Regions from separate parts of the Homo sapiens genome. Here region 1 is linked to region 2. The links come from fine-mapping of genetic effects on gene expression. A gene starts in region 2. The other region holds a variant in brackets. All regions are shown on one strand. Distances are between the middles of the regions. Region 1 has its middle 48 kb from the start of DENND2B. Region 2 holds the start of TMEM9B (TMEM9 domain family member B).

Region 1 (5,377 bases), 110 kb after region 2:
GCTATTTGTATATCTTCTTTTCAGAAATGTTTATTCATATCATTTGCTCGGTTTTTGATGGGAGTGTTTTTTTCTTGCTGAATTATTTGAGTTCCTTGCAGATTCTAGGTATTTGTTGTTTGTCAGATGCATAATTTGCAAATATTTTCTCCCATTCTGCGGGTTGTCTGTTTAATGGTTATTTCTTTTGCTGTGCAGAAGCCTTTTAGTTTAATTAGTTCCCATTTATTTATTTATTTTTGTTGTTACATTCGCTTTTGGGGTCTTAGTCATAAATTCTTTGTCTCACCCAATGTCCAGAAGAGTTTTTCCTAAGTTTTCTTTTAGAATTTTTATGGTTTCATGTCTTAGATCTAAATCTTTGATCCATCTCGAGTTAATTTTTGTATATGGTGAGTGATAGGGATCCAGTTTCATTCTTCTGCGTGTGGCTAGCCAGTTTTCCCAGCACCATTTATTGAATAGGGTATCTTTTCCCAGTTTATGTTTTTGTTTGCTTTGTTGAAGGTTAGTTGGTTGTAAGTATTTGGCTTATTTCTGGGTTCTCTATTCTGTTTCACTGGTCTGTGTATCTACATTTATACCAGTACCATTGCTGTTTTGTTACTATAGCCTTGCAGTATAAGTCAGGTAACGTGATGTCTACAGATTTCTTCTTTTTGCTCAGGATTGCTTTGGCTATTTGGGCTCCTTTTTGGTTCCATATGAATTTTAGAATTGTTTTTTCTAATATTTTCGAAAATGATGTTAGTATTTGGATAGGAATTGCATTGAATCTGTAGATTGCTTTGGGTAGTATGCTCATTTTCATGATATTGATTCTTTGATTTCATGAGCATGGGGTGTATTTCTATTTGTTTGTGTCACCTGTGGTTTCTTTCAGCAGCGTTTTGTAGTTCTCCTTGTAGTGCTCTTTCACCTTCTTAGTTAAGTATATTACTAGGTATTTTATTTGTTTTTGAAGGTATTAAAAAGGATTGAGTTATTGATTTGATTCTCATCTTGGTGGTTGTTGGTATATAGCAGTGCTACTGATTTGTGTACGTTGATTTTGTAACCTGAGACTTTACTGAATTTATCAAATCTAGGAGTCTTTTGGAGGATCTAGGCATCTTTTAGGGTTTTCTAAGTGTACAATCATATCATTAGCAAACAGAGATAGTTTGACTTCCTGTTTTCCAATTTGGATGCCCTTTATTTCTTTCTCTTGCTTGATTGTTCTGGCTAGGACTTCCTAAGGTCATTTTATAAATATTCATAGTAACTAGTTGAAGGCACTGAGATTCCTGTACCTTGGCGGGAAGAACCCTGCTGGATGATTCTCTAGGTGTTTATTTGGGTTATGCCCATTTTCTTTCCCTCTTTTCTTCCTAAGTTTTGATGCTCCTGTTTTTCTGGGAATATTTTGGCTTCATTGTTTAGGCTTTTTTAAGGGCCATGGGGAATTCTGGGGACAGGGGCAGGTGTGACATGTTGCTAGGTATGGGAGGTTTTTACAGCTTGAGAAATTTCCAGGAAAGAAGAGACAGAAAACTTTGTTCACAAAGCATGTGGACAGGAAGTCAGGTGGGAAAATGGCATGGCAGATGGTGTAACTTCTTTGGTCAGCATGCCTGTCTCTGCCAAGATGGGACTGATAGGGTAGTGGGGGTAGTGGGGCAGTGCTGAGGATATAACTTATAATTCACATTATTCCTTGAAGAGAAGATGGTTCTTTGTTTTAAAAGGAAGTATAGTGCCTTACATTGATTTCTTTGAAATATACATGATATAATCCATGAATGAGTATTTGCAAAACACGTGGCCGGGCGCGGTGGCTCACGCCTGTAATCCCAGCACTTTGGGAGGCCGAGGCGGGTGGATCACGAGGTCAGGAGATTGAGACCATCCTGGCTAACATGGTGAAACCCCGTCTCTACTAAAAAATACAAAAAATTAGCCGGGCGCGATGGCGGGCGCCTGTAGTCCCAGCTACTCGGGAGGCTGAGGCAGGAGAATGGCGTGAACCCGGGAGGCGGAGCTTGCAGTGAGCCGAGATCGCGCCACTGCACTCCAGCCTGGGCGAGAGAGGGAGACTCTGTCTCAAAAAAACAAACAAACAAACAAACAAACAAAAAAACACGTTAGTGTTTATCTAACCCTATGCCAAGCCTGGTAGTAGATATACAATACAACTGAGGGAAAGTGATAACCTGAACTTAGAACATATAATTGTTACCTAAAGAATGATATAAAGCAGTACATCATCAAGCTCTAAATTTTGAGTTATTGATACATACAGGGGGTTTGGAGCCCCAGACAAGGTTTAGGACGTGCAGGCTTATGGCAAATCTTGGGCCAAATGGAGGCCTTTGGAGCTTTTGGAGCGCCCAAGGGCTCAGTCTTCAGCCTGTTTCTTGTCTCTGTCTTCACTTTTCTTAGGTGATTCCCTGGCTTTGAAGTACTAGCATTTATGGAATGTTTACTGGCTGCCAGAGGCTGTTGTAAGGGTTTTATGTGCACTAATCTAGCCTTCCAGACAACCTTATAATATAGGTATTTTTATTATCCTTGCTTAAAGGTGTAGAAACTGAGACAAGAGATGGACTTTCTTGAGCTCACACAGCTTATAAGCTGGAGAGCCAGGAAATGACCTAGTTTGGGTGACCAGCCAAGCCCTCGACTGGTTCAGAATAGCCATCCTCAGCTGGTCCTGGCTCCTCTGCTCCTGTCTTTGCAGTCTCTTCTCCACATAGCAATGAGAATATATATATTTTTTACCCTCATATGGAATGCTATCACACTTAGAAGTACAATGCACATTTACTACCAAGTTCTTGTGTGGTCTAAGCCCCAGCTCTCCCATCTGCTCCTGCCTTCCTCCCATCTCTTCTGTCTCATGGCCTTTGCCTGCTCCTAGGATGCTCTTCTCCTTGAATATTGCTGGTTTGTCACCCAGTTCATTTGAGTGTGGGCTCGAGTGTGCCACCTCAGGGAGGCCTTCTCTGCCCATCCTATGTAAAACTGCTCCGAGTCACTCTTTAATCCCCTCCTTTCTTTTTCTTCCTAAAATTATATTACATATTTCTGTGTTTTTCCTGTCTGCTTTCCCAAATAAATAAACTCCATGAAGTTAGGGACTTGATCCATTTGTTTACTGATATCTTTACTTTTTAGAATAGG[A/G]CATGGAAGGTTTTCTTTAAATATTTGTTAAATAAATGACTAAATGGTATCTTTTGCATTCATTTGCTGTTCATGACTTCACTTGGGTAAAAATAGTGGAGAGGAAAGGGAGGTACAGGTGATAACTACAGCCTGGGTCCTAACTGGTTTTATGTTTATTACCAAGGCTTTGCTATCATAACATGGCCAAGAAAATGCTCAGAAATCTTGGTTGAATGAATGCACTGTGTAATTTGTTCTGGATTCCACACAGAGGGGACAGAATAGTGTGGGCTGAAGTGCTCAGAGAAATTTCTTGGAGGACCTGCAGACTTTGAAGGAGAGATTGGATTTGGTCGAGCATATAGGAATCGAAGAATACTTTTTTTTAAAGGTGGAAGGGCTATAGGGTGAACTAGTCCAATCTTTCTGTTTATAGACAGGAAACTGAGCCCAGAGAGGTGTAGGACCTGCCCAAAGGCACACAACCAGTTGATGTCAGAACCACGTCTGGCATCCAGGTGTTTTGACTCCTAATTTAGTTCCCTTTCTTCTACACAGTGCTGCCTTCAGAATCCAGGAGGACTCTGGGGGTTGGGGAGTAACCAGGGGCAGCATGAGCAAAGGCCCAGAGGCAGAAAAGATGTTGGCTTGTATGGGCTGGAAATAGGTGGTCTATTGGAATCAGCAGGTTTATAAAGGAGCCCATCGGAGACAGACCAGGCTGAATCAGATCCTCTGGGATCTTGAATGTCATCTTGAAGACTTTGAGTTTGGAATGAGTGGGAGGCATGTGAAAATGCTTTGACTATTGTTCTGTCTTTCTCTACAGGGATGGTGACAGAATGGATAGTATAGAAAATGGATTGGAATTGAGGAGGAAACTAGAAGCTAAGAGGAGTTAGGAGGCCCTTGTAACAATCCAGGTATTATTGCTAAGGGCCTAGTATCATTTTAGTTATTTCTGTTTCTGTTTTTAGAGATTTGTGGTGGTTTTTGGAGAAGATGACATGAAATTATCAGGCAATATGTGTATACTCAGCTTTCTAATAGAGTTTGGGGATAAGAAGGAGGAGACCTGGTATTTTGCCTTAATTCTGTATGCGGCTATAAATGACATTTTAGTATCCAGATGATAATTCTTCTAAGAAACCTGGGCCAGGTTAGGACAGGAGGGATACAAGATAACATTATACTGATGTGAAAATAGTGATGGGGCTAAGTGCAGTGGCTCATACCTGTAATCCCAGTGCTTTGGCAGACTGAGGCAGGAGAATTGCTTGAGCCCAGGAGTTCTAGACCAGCCTGGGTGACATGGTGAGACCCTGTCTCTGCAAAAAGTAAAAAATTAGCTGGGCATGGTGGCACACATCTGTAGTCCTAGCTACTCGGGAGGCTGAGGTGGGAGGATTGCTTGAGACCAGGAGTTCAAGGCTGCAGGGAGCCATTATTGCACCACTGCACTCTAGCCTGGGTGACAGTCAAGACCTGTCTGAAGAAAGAAAAAAAAAAAAAAGAAAATAGTGATAGAGTGAGGAGAGACTGAAGGAACAGACGGAAATGAATGGGAGCAGCTGCCCAGAGAGGGCCTGGGCCTGCCTTTCCATCAGGGGAGCTGCCCAATATAGTGGTTGGGGAGTCAGGCATCCAGGGACTTCCAACCAACCTTGCACATTTTTTTTTGGACACGTGTGACCAGTGGAAGTAAAACCTGTCTCCTGGGCCCACAAATGCTTTGGACGGATAAGTTGTGCTCAAGCCTAGGCCCATTCAGGTAGTCCACATATGTTTTCAACCAGAGCTGATGAGAACAGATTGATACAGCCTGTACCAGGCCAGTGAATTGGCAGTGTATGATACTTTAAAAATTTTTCCATACCCAGAAATCTTTTTCCATCTCTAACAAAACACTTTGAAAGTCAGCATAAAAGTGAGAACACAGACTTTTAAATAATATCTTCTACTGGATCTGAAAGTTTTGGATGCAAGAAAAAAATCCTGGATCATTTAACATTCAATGGATATTTATTGAGGAGCACTTCTTAAACACCAGATACTGTGCTGGGTACTAGAGCTTCAGTCTTTTGATCATATTGCATCAAATGTTATTAATGGAACATTAACATTTGATTCTATTTCATGTTAAGCTCTTTTAGCCCCAAACGTTATACAGCTTGGTCCATAAACCTTCAGTTGGTTCAGCCTGTTCACTTATGTTTGTGTTCAGTTGTTGAAT
Region 2 (5,377 bases):
TTTCCCTGGTCCCCACAAACATCATATTGTTTTAATCTGTCTCCAGGTATAACAATAATAAGACAAAGTCCTTACCCTCAGAGAGCTCACAATATTTTGGTGGAGGTTTGGGTATAAAGGCAAATGTGAAAACATAATTTTACTATAATGGGGTAAAGTTAAGAAAGAGATCTATGCAAACATAGAAAGGAGTGCACTTAAGTCAGTGAAGGTTTTCTGGCTTAGAAGAACCCTGACCTAAAGGAAAAGTAAGAGTTACCTAGATAAGAGCAGGGCAGAACAAGAGAAACTGATCCCTCCACTTCTATTGAGTCACCTGAAATTATATTCATTTTTTGGCAGACATATACCTCCCCCAAACATTCGGCTCTAGTTGTGCCAGTTCTTCCTTGTCAGCCCTCTTACCTTGGCCTGAGGCTTCATTGTCTCCAGTCAGGCGACTATCTCATAGTCACACTCCACTCACGGCAGCCACATTCTGTATTCCAGAACAGCACTTCCTGACAGCACTATAACATTTTCTAGCAGCCACATTTAAGAGGTCAAAAAACAAGTGAAATATTTTACTAATATATTTTATTTAACCCAACATATCTAAAATATTTAAACCATATTTTTAAATTACTGAAATATTTTACATTTTAAAAATATTGTCTTTGAAATTAAGTGTATATTTTATACAGCACATTTCAATTCAGTCTAGCCACATTTCAAATGCTCAATTGCCACATGTAGCTAGATAGTGGTTATACTATGGAGCTCTAAAATTCCGCCCAGACTGAGTGTGCTTGGTGTTTCTCCATTAAACAGATGAGGCCCATCAGTCTGAGGCACAACTATGTATTTTCTCTAAGTCTCTGTACCCCCAAGGCCTTGAAAACAATTCGGAAGGAAGAGAAGGCCTATGAGGTTTCAGCTACAGCAGGCACTCCCTTTAGATGCCAAGCCTAGAAAACCCTAAACTGATGCCTAACTTGCAGCTGAATCACCTTTCAGCAATCAGATTCAGTGCCTCACCAACACATTTGATCCAGGGAGTCTCCAGTTTGTCCTTTGTCCAGTAGAAGACCCACTACAAAGCCTTGATAATTCATCAAAGTGACAGCACCTTCACTGGGCAGTCTGGTGAGAGGACATCTAGCCCTGCCACCCTGGTTCCTGTTGGGAACAGTATCAGATACGTTGTGTTAGATTCACATGAATCTAAGAATCACATGGGCGAAAAATATTGAGAGCATTCTGTTAAAACATTTCCACAAATTGGGAAAAGACCATCTTTAAAAATCTGTTGGGGCCGGGCGCGGTGGCTCACGCCTATAATCCCAGCAATTTGGGAGGCCGAGGCGGGCGGATCACAAGGTCAGGAGATCGAGACCATCCTGGCTAACACAGTGAGACCCTGTCTGTACTAAAAATACAAAAAAAAAAAAAGAAAAAGAAAAAGAAAAAAAAAATTAGCCGGGCGGCGTGGTGGCGGGCGCCTGTAGTCCCACCTACTAGGGAGGCTGAGGCAGGAGAATGGCGTCAACCCGGGAGGCGGAGGTTGCAGTGAGCCGAGATCGCGCCACTGCACTCCAGCCCGGGGGACAGAACGAGACTCCGTCTCAAAAAAAACAAAAAAATCTGTTTACAGAGGTAAAAACACGGGTATTACATGGAGCATAATTTGAAATCCATTCCCTCATATTCAGCCAAGAACTACAGGCCCAGAGAAGGGAAGTGATTTGCCAAAGGTCATTCAACAAATCCCTAGGGGCTGTGATGATCCGTGTCCTTGCCATTACCTCCCTTGTCTCCACTAACAAAAATATTTCAATGGGAGAATGTGCCGATCTAAGGCACTCCTAAAGTACTTGCTGAGAATGACAGCCCTGGGGAGACAGGTCGGCAGCCCTGAACAGGCACTGCCTTACCCGGGCGTAGTGCCCCAATTCGCCACCTCTTGGAGTCCTAGGCGGAGGATACTACTGGGGCAGTTGTTTCGCCAATTCCACATCTCCCGGAGCCTGGCCTGGCCCAGCCCAGCCCCGTCGCTGTGACCCACTTCCTAGCTGCAGGCTGGACCAAGGGGAGGCACATGGGGAGCTCCACAGGGAGGCCACGCCCACGAGGGCAGCTCACAGAATTAGAAAGCCGACGGGGTGCTGTGGTCAGGAGGCGCGTGGGCGGCAGGTTAGTACTTAAGGTGCAGAGACCACCCCCAACCCTTTGACTGGCGGTGGGCATCCCGGAAAGGCATGGCTCGGCCAATTCCAGCCCCGTTTCCACGCTCAGCACCCGCCCTGCCTGTGCGCGAACGGCTCCGGCCCGCACGGGTCGCCAGAGGCGACTGTGTGACACTCGGAGTTTGCTGGGGTCTCCGTGGGCGGGAGGACTTTCCAGCGCAATGGCGACTCCCTAAGCCCCGCAGCTTCTGCGCCCGGGAAAGATATCCAAGAGATGCAAAGCTCTACTGGGCCCAGGCTGCCACCCCAGAGGCCCCCTTCCGTCCCGGGGCCGGGGCTAGGCCAAGGCGGGCACCAGGACTGCCCAGCCTCCCGGCCCTTCGCACTGGTAACCGGTTCCGGGGCGGATGCTTTTTGCATCTGACCCGGCGCGCCCGGTGACGCCTTCGCGTCCAGACGGAAGTGCGGGCGGAGGATCCCCAGCCGGGTCCCAAGCCTGTGCCTGAGCCTGAGCCTGAGCCTGAGCCCGAGCCGGGAGCCGGTCGCGGGGGCTCCGGGCTGTGGGACCGCTGGGCCCCCAGCGATGGCGACCCTGTGGGGAGGCCTTCTTCGGCTTGGCTCCTTGCTCAGCCTGTCGTGCCTGGCGCTTTCCGTGCTGCTGCTGGCGCAGCTGTCAGACGCCGCCAAGGTGAGTCCCGCCCAGCCTCGCTCCTGACGGAAGCTCCTCCCCTACCACCGGCCTTGCGGAAACTGGGTCTGCCAACCTGCTCCTTGGCCCATTCCTGACAGCCATACGCCTGGCCTCACAGCTCCGGCAGACCCCCGCCGCCACCAGCCCCGCCCCTCCCGACTGCCCGGCGGCACTCTCGCCCTCAGCCCCGACAGCCTGGCAGGCAGCGCCCCACGGTCGTCCCCAGCCCCGACAGTGCCCACAGTCCGGACAGCAGCCCCCCACCGCCTTAACATTTCCCTTCCCAGCCCCGGCTGCACGCATCTTACACTTGACAACCTTTTCACCTCCGAGAGCCTTTAACTTTCCACCCTAAGCTCTTGACAGCCCACCTGCGCCCTCCGCCAGCCTCACAGGCCCCGCATGCCCCAAGCCAGAATGATAGGAAGCCCCCATCTGACAGAGCCTTCCCTGTCAAGGGCCGACTCAGCTCAGCTCACCCCTGAACACTTCCCTTCCTGTGGTGGGAACTTGCCCCTCCTGGCCTACTTCCCTCCCAATAGGGCCTACGGAGCATCTCTCACCTGCTTCATATTCTCACCTAACTCCCTCCACGAGTCCCTTGGTGCCTTTCTTGCTTTCTCTCTTCCTGATAATTTAGTGGGTAAGGGAAGAACCAAACTGCAAGAGAGGTGAGGTTGTGGCCTCCCTGGTTCGATTTCTTGACCTTCTAGTTCCCTCATACTGTTCTCTGGTGCCCCAGCTCTCCAGACCTGCCCTAGCTCCATGCATACCTGTGCTTCCTCTTTGATGAGCTAGCTCATCATTGGGGGAGAACAGAAGGGATTCACATTAGTATGATGGGAAAACAGAATGACATTGCGTTTTTAAAAATAAGAGCTTTAATTTATAATATCTTTAAATGTAGGAGTGGGGAAAGGTTACAGGCAGGCAAATGTTTTTGATTCAGAGATTCTTTTTGAAACCATCTCTACCTCCTACCAGAAACAGGGACAGCAGCACGTCTCCTGACTTTGAAAACATTGCTGGCACCCTCTGCATATCTTGCCTCATAACTTTATGTATTGTGATCATGTATTTATTTTTCAGTCTCCTTTACTAGGGTGTGTCCTGGTTATGGGCAGAAACCATGTCTTATGCTTATCTGAATCCACCTTATTGAGCACAAGATCTAACACAGAGCAAATGCTCACTAAGTGGTTGCTGAATACGTTTGTGAATTGTCAATAGCTCTGCCAGACATATCACTGTATATAGGAGGAGTGGGCAAGGTCCTCTGGGGAATGATAAGCCACTTCCTTCTCAAACAGATTCCCCTTTGCTGAGGAAGCATCTCTTCTTTTCTCTATCCAGATACTTAGTCACCTGTTCCTCCACCTCTTGAAACTTGTTTTGTTGGTAGTTGTTCTGTCTGTCAACCAGGAATTAGAAGCAAAGTTTCCTGGGAAGAGTATACTAAACTGATCTCAGAGTCAGGCTACTTCCTGTGTGTACTTCCTTTCTAGTTGTAGGTGGGTGCCTCTAACATTTCATCCCTTCTACGGGACTCTGGCCCAACCCGTTTTATCAATGTCAGTGCCTTCTACCAGAGGGTGAAAGGATGATAGGTAGAATTGTGACCTTTTTTGTGAATAATTTTTAGTTTCTTTCCCATCCTTTAGTAATGAATATTCTTATTTACAGGCACAACTATCTGCTTACCATGTGTCTTTCTAGTGGCAGATAGATGGTAATAACATTAACATAATTTGATTGTCATGTGACCCATAAATATGGTTAATAAGTCTTAGATCATGTATTAGGTATTATTTCAAAATAACTACATGTAATATATAATGATTCATTGGCATTACCATAAAGGACTGTGGCTTTTAAAAACTGTGTCTGTTAAAGTTTTAAATGAATGATTTTAGAATACTTGGTATTCTAAAGAGGATGCTTGGCAAAATGTATATGGTACAGTTTTTAAAAATATTGATGATAAACTGTCAACGCACTATACTGTTTCCATTTTGGTTACAGAATTTCGAGGATGTCAGATGTAAATGTATCTGCCCTCCCTATAAAGAAAATTCTGGGCATATTTATAATAAGAACATATCTCAGAAAGATTGGTAAGTATCTGGATTACTGAATTACCTGTCACATTTGTTTCTGTGGTTGTCAGTGTTATCCCAGAATGTTCATCAAATGCATAGTTTTCTTTTTAAGTATTTCATTTGAAGCAAAAATGTGAAATTCTACTTCCATTTGAAAAAGTGAGAGTGAGGCCCTACGTGCATGATGCCTGCAGGCCTAAAGGTATACAGCCAAAACACTAAGACCCATGTAGGCAGAGTTTCATGGGAGCATATGACTGGGTTTGTGGCACCTAAACTACCCATAGCTATCTTGCTGTACTCCCTCAAGTTTTGGTGAGGGACCTTTCTCCCTCTTGCTTTTCAGTGGAAGGTTAGCAAGCCTCGTTTGTCTGGGTTATAATTTTTACAACTTGTAGGTTTTGATGATGTATTGCCAAGTA

Evidence for each region. PIP is the estimated chance that this variant, and not a neighbour inherited with it, causes the effect. A credible set is the group of variants that fine-mapping cannot tell apart.
Region 1: its variant is the best candidate, but not a certain one, in a credible set for the expression of TMEM9B in whole blood (INTERVAL, PIP 0.57).

The regions. Positions count from the first base shown.
Region 1 is chr11:8,856,033-8,861,409 of GRCh38, reverse strand. It overlaps a transcript of DENND2B not described here. Among named protein-coding and RNA genes, the nearest start is that of DENND2B, 48 kb to the right of the region's middle. The variant A/G (reference allele first, on the strand shown) is at 3,163.
Region 2 is chr11:8,961,685-8,967,061 of GRCh38, reverse strand. It overlaps TMEM9B (TMEM9 domain family member B), which reads left to right and starts at 2,620. Exons shown (of 5, transcript NM_020644.3): 1 at 2,620-2,853; 2 at 4,879-4,970. The coding sequence starts at 2,749. It overlaps TMEM9B-AS1 (TMEM9B antisense RNA 1), which reads right to left and starts at 2,387. Exons shown (of 5, transcript NR_073431.1): 1 at 1,914-2,387; 2 at 1,018-1,158; 3 at 406-521. RefSeq lists silencers at 2,427-2,926, 2,967-3,156.